Regions from separate parts of the Homo sapiens genome. Here region 1 is linked to region 2. The links come from fine-mapping of genetic effects on gene expression. A gene starts in region 2. The other region holds a variant in brackets. All regions are shown on one strand. Distances are between the middles of the regions. Region 1 overlaps GALNS (galactosamine (N-acetyl)-6-sulfatase). Region 2 holds the start of GALNS (galactosamine (N-acetyl)-6-sulfatase).

Evidence for each region.
Region 1: its variant is fine-mapped to the expression of GALNS in tibial artery (GTEx, PIP 0.96).

The regions. Positions count from the first base shown.
Region 1 is chr16:88,822,907-88,831,590 of GRCh38, reverse strand. GALNS (galactosamine (N-acetyl)-6-sulfatase) reads left to right here. Exons shown (of 14, transcript NM_000512.5): 10 at 4,753-4,889; 11 at 6,722-6,824. Among named protein-coding and RNA genes, the nearest start is that of APRT, 15 kb to the right of the region's middle. The variant G/C (reference allele first, on the strand shown) is at 4,986.
Region 2 is chr16:88,852,601-88,861,765 of GRCh38, reverse strand. GALNS (galactosamine (N-acetyl)-6-sulfatase) reads left to right here and starts at 4,819. Exons shown (of 14, transcript NM_000512.5): 1 at 4,819-5,008. The coding sequence starts at 4,889. TRAPPC2L (trafficking protein particle complex subunit 2L) reads right to left here and starts at 4,639. Exons shown (of 5, transcript NM_001318525.2): 1 at 4,583-4,639; 2 at 2,975-3,147; 3 at 2,016-2,103; 4 at 1,794-1,873; 5 at 1-852. The coding sequence starts at 4,615. The coding sequence ends at 807. It overlaps LOC107983950 (a long non-coding RNA gene), which reads left to right and starts at 5,186. Exons shown (of 2, transcript XR_933884.3): 1 at 5,186-5,315; 2 at 5,465-6,638. RefSeq lists silencers at 4,687-5,086, 6,756-6,825.

The DNA.
Region 1 (8,684 bases), 30 kb after region 2:
CGTGCTCGGCCTCACCGCTCTCCTCCCCACGCACCCCGTGCTCGGCCTCACCGCTCTCCTCCCCACGCACCCCGTGCTCGGCCTCACCGCTCTCCTCCCCACGCACCCCGTGCTCGGCCTCACCGCTCTCCTCCCCACGCACCCCGTGCTCGGCCTCACCGCTCTCCTCCCCACGCACCCCGTGCTCGGCCTCACCGCTCTCCTCCCCACGCACCCCGTGCTCGGCCTCACCGCTCTCCTCCCCACGCTCCCCGTGCTCGGCCTCACCGCTCTCCTCCCCACGCACCCCGTGCTCGGCCTCACCGCTCTCCTCCCCACGCACCCCGTGCTCGGCCTCACCGCTCTCCTCCCCACGCACCCCGTGCTCGGCCTCACCGCTCTCCTCGGAACCAGGTCCCTCTCGGTGGCTCTCGGTGTGTAGGGCTTGCTGTGCTTGGTCAGACAGGCAGGAAGGCTCTCGGTGGGGACTGGAGCCACGTATACTGCCGTGTGTCACGTGGGTGCTGGTAATGACTGTGTGGTGAGGAGACATCCGTGGTCCAGTCACCGCAGCAGTCCTGAGTTAAATGGAGCTAAACAGGTTTCTTCCCTGCAGGACTTATCAGTGCCTTTAGCATGCTGGTGGGCACCATGAGCTTCTAGAAGGGGCTTAGAGCAGGCTGAGTGTTTAAAAACCTGTCTGTCTACTACAGAATCGGTCGTTTTTTCCCCCAAAGCACATCTTCTCAGGCCAGTGTCCTAAGGACACTCAGAGAACAGCAGCAGCCCGACACGAGACCGTTGGTGTCTGTCTGCCGCATGGGGTGCGGACCTCGGTGGTGGCCTGGGTCCTGGCTGGGCGAGGGTGCGCCCTGCCATCTCAGTGTGACCACCTTCATGCTGTCACTGCATCTCCTCTGGCCCAGGAAGCTGCCCCTCGGTTGAGAATCACACCGTGTGGTCTTCTGTAACAGGCACTTGAGCCAGACATACCCATCAACACGCGGGGCTGAGTCTGGTGTTTGTAAACGACCGCTGTTTCTTCACTGTTTCTTAGTCTTTTGCCCTCCCAATGGCCTCCAGAGGCAGCCATCCCCTTCAAGTGGCCCCACGAGGATGGGGGGGGCTCCCAGTGGCAGCTGGAACATCACACATGACGACAGCCAGAGTCAACATGGGGCTCATGGGGCTGAGTGAAGACGTGCGTGGGGCCAGCTCCTTCTGGAGGCTCCAGGAGATGTTCTGTTCCCTGCCTTTTCCCAATCCTAGTAGCTGCCCCATTCCTGAGCTCCTGGCCCCTCCACCGTCAAAGCCAGCAGCACGCAGGCATCTGTCCCTGGCCTTCCTGTTCCACGTTTTTTTTTTTTTTTTTTTTTTTTTTGAGATGAAGTCTCACTCTGTTGCCCAGGCTGGAGTGCAGTAGTGCAATCTCGGCTCACTGCAACTTCTACCTCCCAGATTCAAGCGATTCTCCTGCCTCAGCCTCCCGAGTAGCTGGGACTACAGGCATGCTCTACCATGCCCGGCTAATTTTTGTATTTTTAGTAGAGACGGAGTTTCACTATGTTGGCCAGTATGGTCTCAATCTCCTGACCTCGTGATCTGCCCGCCTCGGCCTCCGAAAGTGTTGGGATTACAGGCGTGAGCCACCGCGCCCGGCGCCTGTTCCACTTTTGAGGACCCTGTGGCTGTGTCCCACCCCACCCCCTGCTCACCCAGGCTGGCCTCCCTGTTTCGAGCCTCGCTGATGAGCGGCCTGCGTTGTGTCTGCCGCCTCAATTGCCTGGCCTGGTCGCGCGCCTGAAGGCCCAGGGATTGGCTGCTGTTCTGCCAGATCCTCCTCTTCCCCACTCATTCTACACATCAGGAAACTGAGGCCAGAGAGGAAGTCGTCTGTCAGGGTCCCCCAATTACTAGGGAGCAGAGGTGGGAGCAGGCGCCTGGCTGTGGATCCTGCACTCCTGCCCACCATGCCTGGGCAGTCCCCTGTGTCCCCAGCAGCCAGTGGGACTGGGGGCGGCAACTGCCAAGGGCGCCTGTTCTCTACAGCTGTCTGGGCCTCCCTCAGACCCTGCCCAGGGCAGCCTTTGTCTGACATGGGACTCCTGGGCCACCCCAAGTTCCCAGGACCCTGAAGGTGGAAGAGACCCCACGGTTCACTGAAAAGGCAGCTGCGGCTCCGTGTGAAGGGCAGAGTGGCTGTGAGAGTGACCGCCTTGTTGTGCAGGAGAAGCATGGGTGGTGGGCACGGCCTCCTTTGTGGTGTGGGGTGCCCCTAGGACAGAATGCAGCTGTGCCGCCCCCTCCACTCCCCTGAGCGCCATCCCCCTGAGGGTAGGGATGGGCCATTTGGTTTCTTGTGTGGGGGCACCTGCAGGGAGTGGCCGGTGGTCACTCAGTGAACACTGTGACGTTGGCATGAGACTCAGGAACTGTGTAGCTCTGGGAGACGTTGGCATGAGACTCGGGACCCGCGTAGCTCTGGGAGACGTTGGCATGAGACTCAGGAACTGTGTAGCTCTGGGAGACGTTGGCATGAGACTCGGGACCCGTGTAGCTCTGGGAGACGTTGGCGTGAGACTCGGGACCCGCGTAGGTCTGGGAGACGATGGCGTGAGACCCGGGACCCGCGTAGGTCTGGGAGACGATGGCATGAGACTCGGGACCTGCGTAGGTCTGGGAGATGTGAGGTTCCCCACTGCAGTGGGTGCCCACCAGGCCGGGACAGGGCTGGGGCTCTGCTCCCCAGGCTGGGAGCCACCCGTGGCTGTGCTCAGCAGCAGCCTGGAAAAGGTGAGGGGAGCCACCCCAGCGCCGCCCGGCTCCATGCGTAGTGGGTTCAGGGACGTCTGTACCCCACAGACCTCCCCACCCACCTGCCCACGGAAAGGCTCCAGCTGAGAAAAATGCCAATTTCAGCGTTTTGGAACCTTGCCATCTGCCTCGCTCCCTGAAGAAGGGAAACCCTCTCCCCACCTGAGGAAGGGAAACCCTCTTCCCAGAGCCACCAAGTTGCCTTTTCCCGTGGGCCACAAAGTGAAATTGAATTCGATGGCATCAGGCCTGTGCACCAGGACACCACGACGGGGTTTCAGTGAAAGCGCCTGACGTCTGTCCCGACAGTTCCCTCTGGGCAGGGGAGGCTTTAGTCCCTGCAGCCCTGGATTCTGAGTGAAGTCTCGAAAGCGCTGATAACGGTTTCAGTGACTTCTCCCACAGCCGCAGCTGCCCACTGCATTTCTGGATGTTTCTGGAAGGCATCGCTGCCTGGAGAGTTCTTCGAAAACGCTCCACGAGGACCCTGCCTGTGCTGACACCACTCCCGCCCGCCCGCCCTGCCGGCACCACAAGCACTGCTCCGCAGTTATTTTTTCAGATGACAAAAGCATCTGGATTTCTTTCCTTTATTATTCTGTCCTTTAAAGGACACGGGAAGGACGGGAAGCAGTCGCACAGACACTGCTGACCAGACCTGGGGAAGCTTCTCACCTTCTGCAAAGCTTCCTGAACTTTCCTGGCAAACGCTGAGCTTTGCATTCCCTGCCCCACACTGGGCGCTGCAGACCCCACATCCCGTGAGCGGCTGCAGCGCGGAGTGAGTGTCCCTGTGAGGCCAGGGCTCCTCTGTTGGAGAAGCTGGCGATCGCCGTCTGCCCTAGCGAGGAGCTGGCTGCAGGCGGCGAGGGTGCCCCTGGACCGTGGGGAGGGCTGTCGACACTGGGTGGGAGCTCCAGGGCCTGGCAGCGGATGGCGGTCCCTGCCCAGCTGCCCCAGGGGCTGAGCTTGCCAGGCAGGGGTGTCTCTCCAGCCCCACCCCAGTCTCCCCGTCGAGTGACCCAAGCCTGGAGCCCCCGAGTTAAGAAAGAGACAGGGCCGCCGGGCTCATGCCTGTAATCCCAGCACTTTGGGAGGCTGAGGCGGGCAGATCACCTGAGGTTGGGAGTTCGAGACCAGCCTGACCAACATGGAGAAACCCCGTCTCTACTAAAAGTACAAAATTAGCCGGGCGTAGTGACACATACCTGTAATCCCAGCTTCTCGGGAGACTGAGTCAGGAGAATCACTTGAACCTGGAAGGCAGAGGTTGTGGTGAGCTGAGATCGCACCACTGCACTCCAGCCTGGGTGACAAGAACAAAACTCCATCTCAAAAAACAAAAACAAAAAACAAGAAGCAGACAGGGCCACTGAGGGAAGCCAGATGGCACGCTCTGCTCATGGCTGGTCAGCAGTGCCCACGCCCTCCGGAGGTCAAGGCACGGCGGGAAAGACAGCCTCCTGCCTGTCCTGGAGCTCTCTGGGTGTGTCAGGAGCCGTCCCCACCCCAGCCACTCGGAGCTGCTCCTGTCCAGCCTCAGCTGCCCCTCCACATCTGGTTTTTCTCCACCTGCTCCTCTGACTTAAGGGGCAGGGCTCACAGTGGCCTTAGGGCATTCAGTGTTAGAGCGAGGCTGATCCTCTCCGGACAGGTGGGCCTGGAGGGGCATCTCCCTGGGAGGGCTGTGATTCTCCTTTCATCTGATCCACAGAGGCAGAGAAGGGTGCCAGGGAGTGAGGGCGTGGCCTGGCTCTGGGGTCTTTGGGCCTGGTTTGAGGCTCCTCTGTCTCTCACAGGCCTTGTGACCCCGCTCAGTCCCTGCTGTGGGCGTGTGAGCATGTATGCATATCTGTAGACCCAGCTGGGCAGCGGGGCTCACGCCCCCCCAGGGATTGGCCCCCAGCCCCATCGGGTCGGTGCAGAGTGCCCTGACCGTGTTGCTGCCATGTGTTTCAGGTGAGCCACCAGCTGGGCAGCATCATGGACCTCTTCACCACCAGCCTGGCCCTTGCGGGCCTGACGCCGCCCAGCGACAGGGCCATTGATGGCCTCAACCTCCTCCCCACCCTCCTGCAGGGCCGGCTGATGGACAGGTTGGTGCTAGACCTGCCCCGGCCCCTTCCCCCGATCCAAGTAGTGAAGCCCAGAGCTGCTAATCAGGTGCAACCCCCAGGCCCAGCAGCCCTCCT[G/C]GTTCTGGACACAGGCGTGCTCGTGCCCAGGGCAGGAGGAGGCAGGGGTGCCTGAGACGAGAGGACCTGGGGACCTGCCTGTGGGGCAGGGGCCATCCTGGGAGGGTCCAAGCACAGCGAGGCCCTGGCTTTCAAGAAAGCCTTAGGAGGGAGGGCAAGGCCAGGAGAGGGGCCTCATCCCTGCCTGTACCCGGGCACATGCCGCCCCTGCCCGCCCCACCCCTGTTCCCTGCCTGTACCCAGACACACGCCACCCCTGTCCGCCGCACCCCTGTTCCCTGCCTGTACCCAGACACACGCCGCCCCTGTCCGCCCCACCCCTGTTCCCTGCCTGCAGCCCGGGCACATGCCACCCCTGCCTGCCCCACCCCTGTTGCCTGCCTGTACCTGGGCACACGCCGCCCCTGCCCGCCCCACCCCTGTTCCCTGTCTGTAGCCCGGGCACACGCTGCCCCTGTCTGCCCCACCCCTGTTCCCTGCCCAGCCTGGTTTTTGGTGCCTCATGGCTTCCTGTAGCTTCCTTCTTCCTTCCATCCAAGTCGCTGCTCTGCCAAGTCCATGGCCCAGCTCTTACCTTCTGTCCAAATCCTTAGTGTCCAAAGTCCATTTCCTACCCCCTGAGAGCAGCCACCATTCCACTCAAACCACGTTTCCTGGGTGGTCCTGAAGGGATGAGGATTCCAAAGGCTCAACGGGAAGCAAGGTGGGGACGGCCCAAGGCAGCTGCCGCCTCCGGCTATCTGGGGCCGGGTAGAGGGAGTTTTGCTCACTTGTCCCCTCTCGAGACCTGGCACAAGTGGTTGGTCACTGTGGGGAGAGACGGTGCCCAGCTGCGTCCCCCACTCCCCGTTCCTGACTCGCAGGCCCAACATGGTCAGGAGACCCCGTGCCGCCTGCTTATCCTCTTGTCTGCCCACCCTCCCCAGGGTCTGGCCCAGCCTTGCCAAGGACCAGCAATGAGGGGACGCCCAGGCACCCTAGCCCCGGCCGCCCAGGCACCCCAGACACCCAGGCACCCCAGCCCCAGCTGCCCAGGAATCCCAGTCCCGGACACCCAGGCACCCCAGCCCCGGCTGCCCAGAAACCCCAGCCCCAGACATCCAGGCACCCCAGCCCCGGCCGCCCAGACACCCAGGTACCCCAGCCCTGGCCGCCCAGGCACTCCAGCCCTAGACACCCAGGCACCCCAGACACCCAGTCACCCCAGCCCCGGCCACCCAGACACCCAGCCACCCCAGCCCCGGTTGCCCAGACACCCCAGCCCCAGACACCCAGGCACCCCAGATACCCAGTCGCCCCGGCCACCCAGGCACCCCAGCCCCGGCTGCCCAAACACCCAGGCACCCCAGCCCTGGCCACCCAGACACCCCAGCCCCAGACACCCAGGCGCCCCAGACACCCAGGCACCCTAGACACCCAGTCACCCCAGCCCCGGCCGCCCAAACACCCAGTCACCCCAGCCCCGGCCGCCCAGACACCCCAGCCCCAGACACCCAGGCGCCCCAGATACCCAGTCACCCCAGCCCTGGCCACCCAGGAGCTCCAGCCCCGGCCGCCCAGGCACCCCAGCCCCAGCCACCTTGCGGGCCTTTTTACTTTTCAATCATCTTTGTAAAGTATCAACCAAGACCTCACGTGGAGGCATGAGCCACTGATGACAGACGCAGCCCAGAGCCTCCAGGTGGCCCCAGCGTGTCCTTCCTGTCATTACATGGTCCTCCCCTCCCATCCCACAGGCCTATCTTCTATTACCGTGGCGACACGCTGATGGCGGCCACCCTCGGGCAGCACAAGGCTCACTTCTGGACCTGGACCAACTCCTGGGAGAACTTCAGACAGGTACAGGGCTCGGGACGTGGGCGCAGGCGGAGCTGCCCCCATCTCTATCCAGACGTGGCCCCTGAGCACCGTCCTGGGGGAGGCACAGGAGGGTGAGACAGGCAGGAACTCCACCCCCTCCACAGCCTTCTCTGTGTGGCCCCCAGTCGTTCAGCGTGGCCTAGGGCATGGCAGCTGACAGGCTGGAGAGGAGGGAGGGACCTCTTCCTGCCCCGCGTGATGACAGTAGCCCCGCGGCATAGCTACAGGCGTGGCCTAGACCCTGGTCAGGTGGCCCCCATGGGCCTCTCCATCCTGCCAGGGCATCTGAGCCTCCCCCACACCCCAGGCTGGAGGCGACAGAGACGTGGCCTGCTTGGCCCAGGTGCTACATGGGGGCCGCAGCATTGGCATCACCACAGCAACCCCCAGTGTGGGAGGGTGAAACGCCACACGCACAGGGCCTGGGGCTCCTGCCGCCCCAGGCTACCCCAGCATTGTCAGCGCCAGGCTTTCTCCCACGAGCCCTCGCCTCAAGCCTCCTGCTCCCTCCCCACGGTCTTTTCTGGCCCCTGCTGACCCCTACGCTCCAGCATCCCCCAGCCCCTCCTGAGAGGTCTCTCTCAGCCCCACCCACTCCCAGCATCAAAGTCTTGAGATATGAACCCCCTGCTAATCTGCCTTAATTGGGAAGAAAATCATTTAGTGTAATGGAGAGTCTAAAGACTGGAAGTGAGAACTGGGGCTGAGGGCTGAGCACCCAGGCTGAGGAGGGAAGCTGCTCGTGGGGCAGTGTCTGGAGGGCAATGATGCCCAGGAGTGTTTTGGCTCCTCCCCACCCTGTGCAGGCCCCGCACCCGCTCTTCTTTCGGGTTTTACCCAGCACTGTCACCTGCAAGGGCCATCCTGGGCATCGGTCCCCGGCATTGCCGCCTGTGAGGGCCGTCCTGGGCATCGGTCCCCGGCATTGCCGCCTGCGAGGGCCGTCCTGGGCATCGGTCCCCGGGCATTGCCGCCTGCGAGGGCCGTCCTGGGCATCGTTCCCCGGGCATTGCCGCCTGCGAGGGCCGTCCTGGGCATCGGTCCCCGGCATTGCCGCCTGCGAGGGCCGTCCTGGGCATCGGTCCCCGGCATTGCCGCCTGCGAGGGCCGTCCTGGGCATCGGTCCCCGGCATTGCCGCCTGCGAGGGCCGTCCTGGGCATCGGTCCCCGGCATTGCCGCCTGCGAGGGCCGTCCTGGGCATCGGTCCCCGGCATTGCCGCCTGCGAGGGCCGTCCTGGGCATCGGTCCCCGGCATTGCCGCCTGCGAGGGCCGTCCTGGGCACAGTCCTCGGACGAGCCCCTTGGCCTGCAGCACCCGCTCTGGGAATGTTAGAGGCATACCTCGCCTTTCCCGAATCAGGAGGCCCAGGGGCAGCAGAAAGAGAATTGTGGTTACTGTAAAATCCTTGCCCTTCTTGAGTGTGTGAATCTGTGTCAGCTCCCTGGGTCTGTTTTTGTTTTCTGTGTTTTCTCTTGCCTTTCACATGTTGGTCCTGCTCCTCCCTGTCTTAGGGTTTCTGTAGGGATTCTGAGCGTTGTGGCTCTCCCTTCTCCCAGGGCAGGGCCTCCCTTCCCGTCCCTTTCCCTCCCCTCCCTTCCCCAGCAGAGAGTAGGCTGTTAAAAGGGGCTTTCCTCCATGAAATTAGTGGCAGTCCAGATCTGAGGCTGGCTAAGGTGTTTTAAATACACTCACCTGCCTCGCAAAGAAGAGGGGTACATGAAAACAGGGTACGTGAGGCATGCCAGCTACGCATCTCGGGCCCAGAGCGGGTGGCTTCACCTCCTCCACAGGATGCTTATGGGCCCGCTAGTCCTTCAGCGTTTAGCCAGCGCCCTGC
Region 2 (9,165 bases):
ACCAGTGCTGGAACCAACTCCGGGGGGGTCCCCTCAGCGGGCTGAGCCTTGACCGCTGGACCCCAAGGACGCCGGCGGCACTGACGCCACTATGGGCTCGGCCGCTGCCCTGGGTGGTAGTCAGCCACGTCATCAAGTGACACAGCACCCAACCCCCTCAGCACCAACAGGCAGGAGGGGGTGCCTCAAGTCTGCGCTCCAAGGTTTAGGACCAGGGCTGCAGCTGAGCCAACGCCGCGGGGCCACGAGGCTTCCCAGGTTTCACAAGGGCTCCTTTTAAGGCCGGGCGGAATCCAGACATTGAGCCAGATGCAAAGAATGGAGGCCAAGTCCAGAAAGAGGAGGGCCCTCCCCTGTGGGAAGCCACGCCGGCTCCCCTTGTGCCCCTAGATCCTAGGCTGGTTCTGGGCTCAGGAGGCCACCCCCTCCAGACCAGCCCACCTGTTCAGCCAGTGGGTGACCCACATGGTCACAGGTCCTGCAGGCTCAGGAACTCTTGGCTCCAGGCACCCCTGCCTCTGCCCCTTTGGGACAACTGAGGACAGGCTACCTGCGCCATCTGATCCCAAACCTCTGCCCACACCCCAGAAAAGTCCTTAGTTGAATTCTTCTTAATTAAATCCTTGGCTGACACGGAAGGAAAAAGCCAAATCTCCTCTCACAAGACCTTTAGTTGAGAGAACATGCACAGCTGCCTGCCCTGAAAGCCCCAGGCGTCCCATTCAGGAAGAGGCAACCAGAACAGACCGACGGCCCCACCACAGTCGTGCGCGGGCTCCTCTGCGATGGCTGGCAGCACAGCTCACTCAGCACACCTGTATCATCATCGACGTCACCATGTTATCAAAGGCCCTGCTAAGAGAAACAGACCCACTCAGAGGAGAGCCAGGCCCTCCACCCCTCTGCTCAGAGACGGGCCGGGCAGCATGGCTCCATCCACAGGATGCTCGGGACCTTCTCCAGGGTCCAGAAATGTGAACTCCGCTGAGAGGCCAGGACAGGAGTCCCACCCCACCGGGCACTGAGAACCCATCTGCTGCCTCCAAGTTCCCTGTGCAGCCTCCCAAGGCCCCAGGAAGGGGTGGAGGAGGGAGCAGCATGGGCAGGCAGAGCGGTGGTGTGGCAAGGATGGCCCTGTGCAGCCCAGGAGGCAAGACTGTGGACATTCGCCTGCCTGCTCCCATCTGGGACCAGGATGGCCCCAAGACAGTGTCCTGGTGGAGGGAGGGGCCTGCCTTGGATCACTGCAGCGTCCTCTTCCCTGCCAACCACAGGGAATTATGTCTTGGAACTGGGGACTCACTGAAAGCAAGTCTGGAATGTGGGCATGGACCCCACATTTCCCTCATGATGTTCAAAAGTTAAATCTGTTTACTTTGTGGACTATTCGGAAGACACCTGCAAACCAGGTTCCTGACTGTTCCAAATTCAACATAAAAGATCAGGTAGCTACAAAAGGACGTGTGATCCCTGAAAGCCACTGCCCATGTGCTTGGCCCTGAGTCCTGCAGGTGCCCCAGGTACCCACTGGGCACACCTGGGAAGCCAAATGGGCAAGCTCTACTCCCCACACCACACACACTCTATCCACTTTATGCGCTGGAGATCTGTGTAAGAGTTGGTGTGGAGAAACGGGGCTTTGTGGCTTTAAAACCTCTGCCCTAGGGGGATGGTGCTCATAGCTTAAAAAGATCTTTCCTCCCTTATTTTCCAAATGGTTGCATTTTGGCAACCAAAATGGCAAGGCATGTCCTACAGAAAGAAGGTGGCAAGACACAGAAAGTAGGGCCCACCTGGACTGGATGCGGTCCCCCGGGTTGTAGAAGGGGTTGCACATCACGTCTGTGTAGGAGTTGTGTAGCTTCCGGAACATCTGAAAAAGACCCAGCAAACCATGACCTTGCCACATACACACAGCCACTGCCAGATTTTTAGTTTCTCAGCATTTCAAAACAAAGTCAAAAAGGAAAAACAAAACACCCACTCGGGCGTGGCCCTCTAACTCCCTGACTTACGCTGCGAATTTCGTTGTCTCGAAGGGCTGTGTTGGAGGAATCTACCACCATGACAAACTTCACCTTGGAGTTGGTGACGTAGCCGTATCTGCACAGCTGGTTAGGGAAGGCACTCGTAACACAGGGACTGCCGGTGGAGGGCCCTCTGTGGGCCCTCACTTTGGAGAAATGTGGCAACCTTGAATCACAGGAAATGCCCATGCTGGGCTGGTCCTGCAGTGGCCGTGCTGGGTACAAGCCTAAATACTTTGCTAGGGCGACGTCTGGTGTTTGCAGGAGAAGCGAAGAGCAGGCAGCCAAGCCTTACCCAGTTCACACTCCAGGAGCCGAACCACCTAGACTCCGAGTCTGTCTGTCTGGAACACCTCACCCTCTTCATGAATCAATGCCTGGCCCGGAAAGTTAACTGCAAAACCAGAGGCTTCGTGAACAAGGCGGATCCCCTCTCTAGAGGCCACATTATTTTGTAAAATAGTGGCTACTAGCAAATGTCACCATGGACAGGCTACATGATGACTTTTGGGAAGGTCTTTGAATTCCATGGCCTCAAGTGATTTGTCCCAAGGGACTAGACGAGTGTCTAGTGACATAAGAGGCAAGGCCTAATGAAATAAATGAAACTATTATCCCCTGCTCAAAGGTGGTGGCTCCCCCTGAAAAGCACAGAAAGAAATCCTTGCAGGTACAAAGCAGAAGTGTCCCACTTCCTCTGCAAACCAGACAACGGACACGTGCAAACCAAAACATTCTACGGGGAATTCTAGCCTTGCTTTTCCCAAATGGCTCTTCCAATGAAAGAGAAGAGTTACAGGCCTTCATTCACCTCAAGCTACCCTAATTCCCTGGCTGGCTAAAAACTCTCACCTCTTTTTCTTCTAAAAGGTTTCAAGTTATCTGATCCTAAAGTACATCTTGCAACTGTAGGTCCTCCCTGACACACACCCTGCCCTGAAAGATACACCTTGTAGTCCTCCGTGGGGTAGAGCAGGCCCAGGTACAGCTCCCTCTGGTCGACCAGGGCCTTCCCCATTGCGGAGATCTTCTCATCCACCACGTCCAGAGATGTGTGCACCATGTAGTGGAACTTCAGCTCGTTCTCCGTAGGGGTGCTGCGAATGTAGAGGGGGTAATTCTGCAAGAAAGGATGACGGCGACTGAAAGGACAAGACTCCACCCAGCGCACACCAGCTCTGAACTATGCTGCAGAGCCGTGACCTGCAGCCACCCGGGGAACGCATTCCCATGCTCTAAGGCCCACCGCTTCATTCTCTATGCCGCAGTGGGCACTGCCTTCAGGGGATCCCAGCTAACCTAAGGAGATTTATGTGTTGTTTGCAAAGCAGCAGCAGTAGGGTGGGCGGAAAAGAAAAAATGAATCAGAAAAATGGGCCTGAGCACAGCCTGCCGATCAAGCCTGGCACCTGGGCACGCCTCTCACCTTCTCCTGGAGGCCACTCTGCCTCAGCCCACCTCTAACTCTGCATGGCTCACCCAAATACAGCACCCTCAATACTGGCTTTTCTTCACCTTGACAGTGACCCTTTTACTAAACCCTTCAAGACTCAGCTCAAATTCCCTTCATCTCTGCATTTCTGACCATTGGAAGCCCAGAATTAACAGCTTCTTTCTCGGTCTTTCACACACCACCATTTACCCTGTGTGTGTTCAGCACTGGGTCCTGCACAAATACAGTGAACAAGAGTCCTCGCTACCCTCGTGGGGAGTGATACCTAGTCAATAAACCCACAAACAAGCAAATGATCATCTTGGCCAAGAGGGAAGCCCATGAGCAGCTTAGCAGCAGCCACCGCCCAGCAGGGAGCGGTCTCGAGTCTGGTCTCGGGAGACCCTGGCTAGGAAATGAAGGCTCCGTGCAGCAGGAGCGTGTGGGCAGCCACCCAGCTCAGTCTTAGCCTTCAGAAAATGCTTTCCAGTTGAAATGTATGTGGGCCAGTAAAGAGGATGGGAGCTGGGGAGAGGTGTTCCGCGTGCAAAGGCCCACAGGTGAGAGGGCAGAGCATGTCCAGGGAGCTGCAGAATTGTTTGGTTGGAGCGGAGAGTGCCAAGGGTTATGGGGGGAAAGGATCCCAGAGCAGGTTATTCAGACAGCATCCTAAGGCAACGAGAAGCCACTGCAGAGGTCTCAGGCAGAGGCGTGACAGGATCCGATTTGTTTTTAACTCGGCTCCGGGGAGACTGGCAGGAGGGCCGGGGCCGCCGTCCGCGGGGAACCAGCGCTGGACGGGAGAACGGGCAGAACCTGCTGAGGACGGAGGACGGAGGTAGTGCCCGGGACCACCTAGGTTTCTGGTGGGTCCTGGCGGGGAGGAGACCTGCTGCGCCGAGGGGTGCGTTCAGCAGCGGGACGGGCGAGCGCGGAACTGGGGTCTCAGTCAGGGTCTGCCTGGCGGCTCGTCCACCGCGAAGCCCCTGACCGCTGGAGCTCGGCGAAGGCCTCCTCCAGGTCCCATTTCCTAAGGTGCCTTCTAAGCCCAGGGAAGAAGTAGAAAGAAAGCGGAGAGCCGAGGATGGTGCGAGCCCGGACGCCCCACGCCGCGCGTACGCACCTCCTTGGCAATCACCGCGATGCACACCGCCATCTTGGGAGGCTCGGCGCCAGGCACCGCGTCACGTGACCCGCCGCTGGTCACGCGGCCTCCAAAGCCCCGCCCCATCCGCACACAGCTGGCTCAGGCCCCGCCCCACTGGTCACGAGGCAGTCCAGGCCCCGCCTCCCGTCCCTCCGCGGACTCTGGCCCCGCCCCGCGAGTCACGTGGCCGTCCAGGCCCCGCCCCGCAGCCCAGCCGGAAGGGCCGGCGGACGCTCGCTAGGTCGGCTCGCTGGCCGGGGCTCCGCGGCTCCCGTGGTTGCCATGGCGGCGGTTGTCGCGGCGACGAGGTGGTGGCAGCTGTTGCTGGTGCTCAGCGCCGCGGGGATGGGGGCCTCGGGCGCCCCGCAGCCCCCCAACATCCTGCTCCTGCTCATGGACGACGTGAGTGCGGGCGGTGGGACGGGGCAGGGCCGGGGTGGGGCGGGGAGGGGAGGGGCGGATGGAGGGAGGAGCGAGGTGGGGGAAGGGCGGGCGGGGTGGGGGGAGAGGTGAGGGGAGGCCCCTTGGGGAAGGGGGGAGGCCCCGCGCGGGGAGGAGGAGGGGGAGGGGACGGGGGGTATCCCCGTGCGGGGAGGGGGAGGCCCCTCGGGGAGTGGCCGCGGGGTCCAGGCGTGGGGTCTCGGCGGTCACCGATCACCACACGCGCTGCCACTGTGCTGCATGACCGGGACAGCGTCCTCCCTGGCAGGTGGGTGGCCGGCGTGCTACCGGGCCCTGCCTCCCCCGTCTGACCTTTCCCGCCCTCTACTCTTGGGAAAGGTGGGCGCGCAGCGTGGCCTCCCCAAAGGGAGGAAGAGGCTGCTCCTGCCGCCCTGCCTGAGAGCTGCGTCGCCCTAGGAATCACTCCCGCCACCTCGGGCCGCCGGGTCCCCCCGCTGGGCTCCAGTCTTACCTGACGGCTGTCTCTGTCCTCTGGAGAATGCTGAGCGAAGGTCAGGTGTCCCTAAGGTCTGAAGAACTGAAAGGCTGGAATGTCTCCTGGTGGGCAAGTGCGGGGTCAGGGGTCACAGCCAGCCTGGAGGCCTCCTTCCCTAACTCCTTGTGGGAGCCACCTGGAGACTCAGGAATGAGCCTGCCTGGGGCATGGGTCACCGTGCAGGACCCCAGACACACCTGGGTTGAAACCCTACTGTCTCCAAGCTTGGGGGTCACTTCCATTCTTGAACCTCAGCTGCCACACCTGGGGGGTTACACCTGTCCCGCCGTGCTCACGTTGTGTGTGAGGACTGGGACGACACCGAGTACCAGACAGTTTTGGGCCGTCGGTGTCGCTCAGCCCCTGTGTGCTGGCTCCGACCAGCAGAGACCCTGACAGGTGCCTTCAGACCCACCTGTGCTGACCAGTGGGGGCCACGGGCCACACCCAAGGGCTGGGCAGTCGTGGCTGTCGGAATTGGAAGGTGCTGGTAGTGTAAAATACACAGATTTAGAAGACTTGGTGAAAGAAAAATAATGTAAAATATCTCACTTAACAATTTTATTAAATTAATGGTTTTTTAACATAAAGATATACTTGAAAAGATAACAGACACCACCCATAATTTCCCCACCCAGGGGTGACAGCCGACAGTCCTGGGCAGCTGCTTTTCCATCTCATATGTCTTATTTGTGTGCAGTGACTGCTTTCCAGAGCACGCTCTCCAGCGCCCAGGGGTCCGTGTCCTGACAGCAGTAGCCGGGCCTTTCTCTGCACTGAGTGGCATCTCCCTCCTAAAGATACTTTGCTTCAGAATTTCATCCTTTCACTTTTGAAGTTCCTCTGGGCCAGTGTAGATACTTTGTTTCAGAATTTCTTCTTTTCATTGTGTAACTCCTTCTGGGCCAGCATAGCTTCGCTGGATGAGCTGGGCTCTGCAGGTGAAGCCTCCCTGTTAAGTTTCTGCTTTTCCTGACTTTCTCAGAGGACAGAGGGGTGAGGCGGGGCAGCTCATGAATAATTTTTTATGTTGAAGACTTGTCGAAATAATATTTTGGTTATGTTGGGTTAAATAAAATATAAAGTTAGTCTGTATTTCACCTACTTCTGCTTTTCTAATGTGGCTCCCGGTAAATAGGGAATTGCATGTGGACTCACCCTACGTTTCCATAGGACAGCAAGGGTTCAGGCCGTGCAGGGTGGAGGGGTGGGGTGTGGCCACCGGGGCACATGTGGGGGAGGGTGACAGGAAGCCCCGCCCACCTGGGCACCTGTTCTGTGGCCTCCACTGTGTGGCTTGTGGGGTCGTTTGGCAGCTGACGCCTAAAGAACCCCAGAGGAGCTGTGTCCTGGCCGGTAGGTGTACTTGTAAGGACTTTCTGATGCAGACAGCAGAAGATGAAGTCAAAGTGACAAGCAACAGTGGGGATTCCCTGGCCCTCCTGAGTCGACAGACCAGGGCCGCCTGGCGAGTTTCCCCTTTCGTGGCTCTGCTGCCTCTGAACTGGCCACATCCTCACTCAGCCTGTGATGGTCCTAGGTGACTCCAAGTCACCCCTGCAGTCAGCAGACCCAGTGGGAGGTTGGCTCTGCCCGTGTCATGTTAGCGTGATGTGGGTCTCAGCCCTGCGCCAAGCACACTGGGGGAGGGGCACATGCTGACCTGTCCAGCCCAGGCCTCGGAGCCTCGGGCCTACCCCAGAAGGGAGACTGCCCCTGATCATCTCATCTGCCTGGACCCAGCAGAGAGGGGGTTCCCTGAAGGGCCCATGGTGCAGCTGCCAGGACAGGGCAGGGATGCTGGCAGGTGAGAGCCACAGAAGCTCACAGTGGAGCCCCGAGGTGCCCTGACGTGGCCCAGGGTGCAAGGGGGTCCTCACAGGCTGTCTTCTCTCCTTGGAGTCCGGGGCTTCCTCCGCAGCCCTGTCCACACCTCTTCCTGCACTGCAGACCGGTTGTTTCTGCCAGGGCGCTGGCGTCTGAACCTGCAACAGGTCATTCGGCCTCTGGCATGACATGGGATGGCTTGATGACCCACAGCTCTGGGCCCAGCACCACTTGAGGACGAGTGTGCATGTCTCAAGTTCAGATTTTGGAGCATGGCCCTCCAGGGACCGGCTGCCTCCAGCCCAGTCTCCCCCTATCCAGTCCTCTGTGGCTGGGCAGTGGGGGGCCTGGGCCCCCCTTTCGTCTAAGCAAGTGCAGTTTCAGAAAAGGGTTGTCCCCAAAACTAGCTTATTGCACCCCTCATGGCCAGAAGCCACTCTCCAACTGGTCACACTGACCCGGGAGAGAACCATTGCCCCCAGAGTCGGGACCAGAAGGGGAAGCTGGGACTCAGGGGTGAGAGCAGCTGGCAAGAGCCCCCACCTGTCCAGGGGGAGCTGAGCCGGGCAAGGACGGGTCTACCTGCACTCCCCAGGGCTGCCCTGCCCTGGCCTTTCACTGACCCACGGTCCAGCGCGGCCTGGCTTCGTAGTACCCTGGGCACCTGCTGCGTGAGTGAGGAAACCTGCGTGGCCCACTCTGCTCTCCAGGGCTTCTGGGGCCTTGGAGACAGGTGAGACCCAGTGACAAGTTCCACTCTGGCCCACACACAGCTCCTGCCTCCCAGGGCGAGCAGCACTCTGTGTCTCCACTCCTTATTTGGAAAATAGGGTTAAGGAGGGTCAGCCCTGACCACAGAGGAAGTGGAGAGTCAGGGCCACCCAGGCCAGCTCCTGTTGCCACAGCAGCCTCGTCGAGCCACCAGAGTCCGGGGAGGGTTGCTCAGTGCCCCTCGTTTGAAACAGACAAGCACTGGCCTGCTCGTCTTCATAATAATCCCATAGCAACCAGTAGGAATGGAAACTGCGTTTCTTAAAACTCTGAAATTCTGAAGGATACTGATCCATGGCTCACAGCTGTGCTCGCTGAACGTGGACAATCATTTGGGGGCTTTTAGGCCTTTTTTTTTTTTTTTTTTTTTTTTGAGATGGAGTCTCACTCTGGTCACCCAGGCTGGATTGCAGTGGTGTGATCTCAGCTCACTGCAACCTCCGTCTCCCAGGTTCAAGCAATTCTCCTGCCTCAGCCTCCCGAGTAGCTGGGACTACAGGCTCCCACCACCGTGCCCAGCTAATTTTTGTATTTCTAGTGGAGACGGGGTTTCACCATATTGGCCAGTCTGGCCTGAAACTCCTGACCTCAGGTGATCTGCCTGCCTCAGCCTCCCAAAGTGCTGGGATTACAGGCATGAGCCACCACACCCAGCCAGGACTTTTTTTTTGAGACAAGGTCTGGCTCTGTCACCCAGGCTGGAGTGCAGTAGCTCGATCACAGCTCACTGCAGCCTCAAACTACTGGGCTCAAGCAATTTTCCTGCCTCAGCCTCCTGAGTAGCTGGGATTATAGCCGCCCATCACCACACTCGGCTAATTAATTTGATCTTCAATCACTGATACCCTTTCTTCCACTAGATCGAATCGGCTACTGAAGCTTGTGCATGCGTCACGTAGTTCTGGTGCCATGGTTTTCAGCTCCATCAGGTCATCTAAGGTCTTCTCTACACTGTTGATTCTAGTTAGCCATTCGTCTCATCTTTTTTCAAGGTTTTTAGCTTCCTTACCATGGATTCAAACAT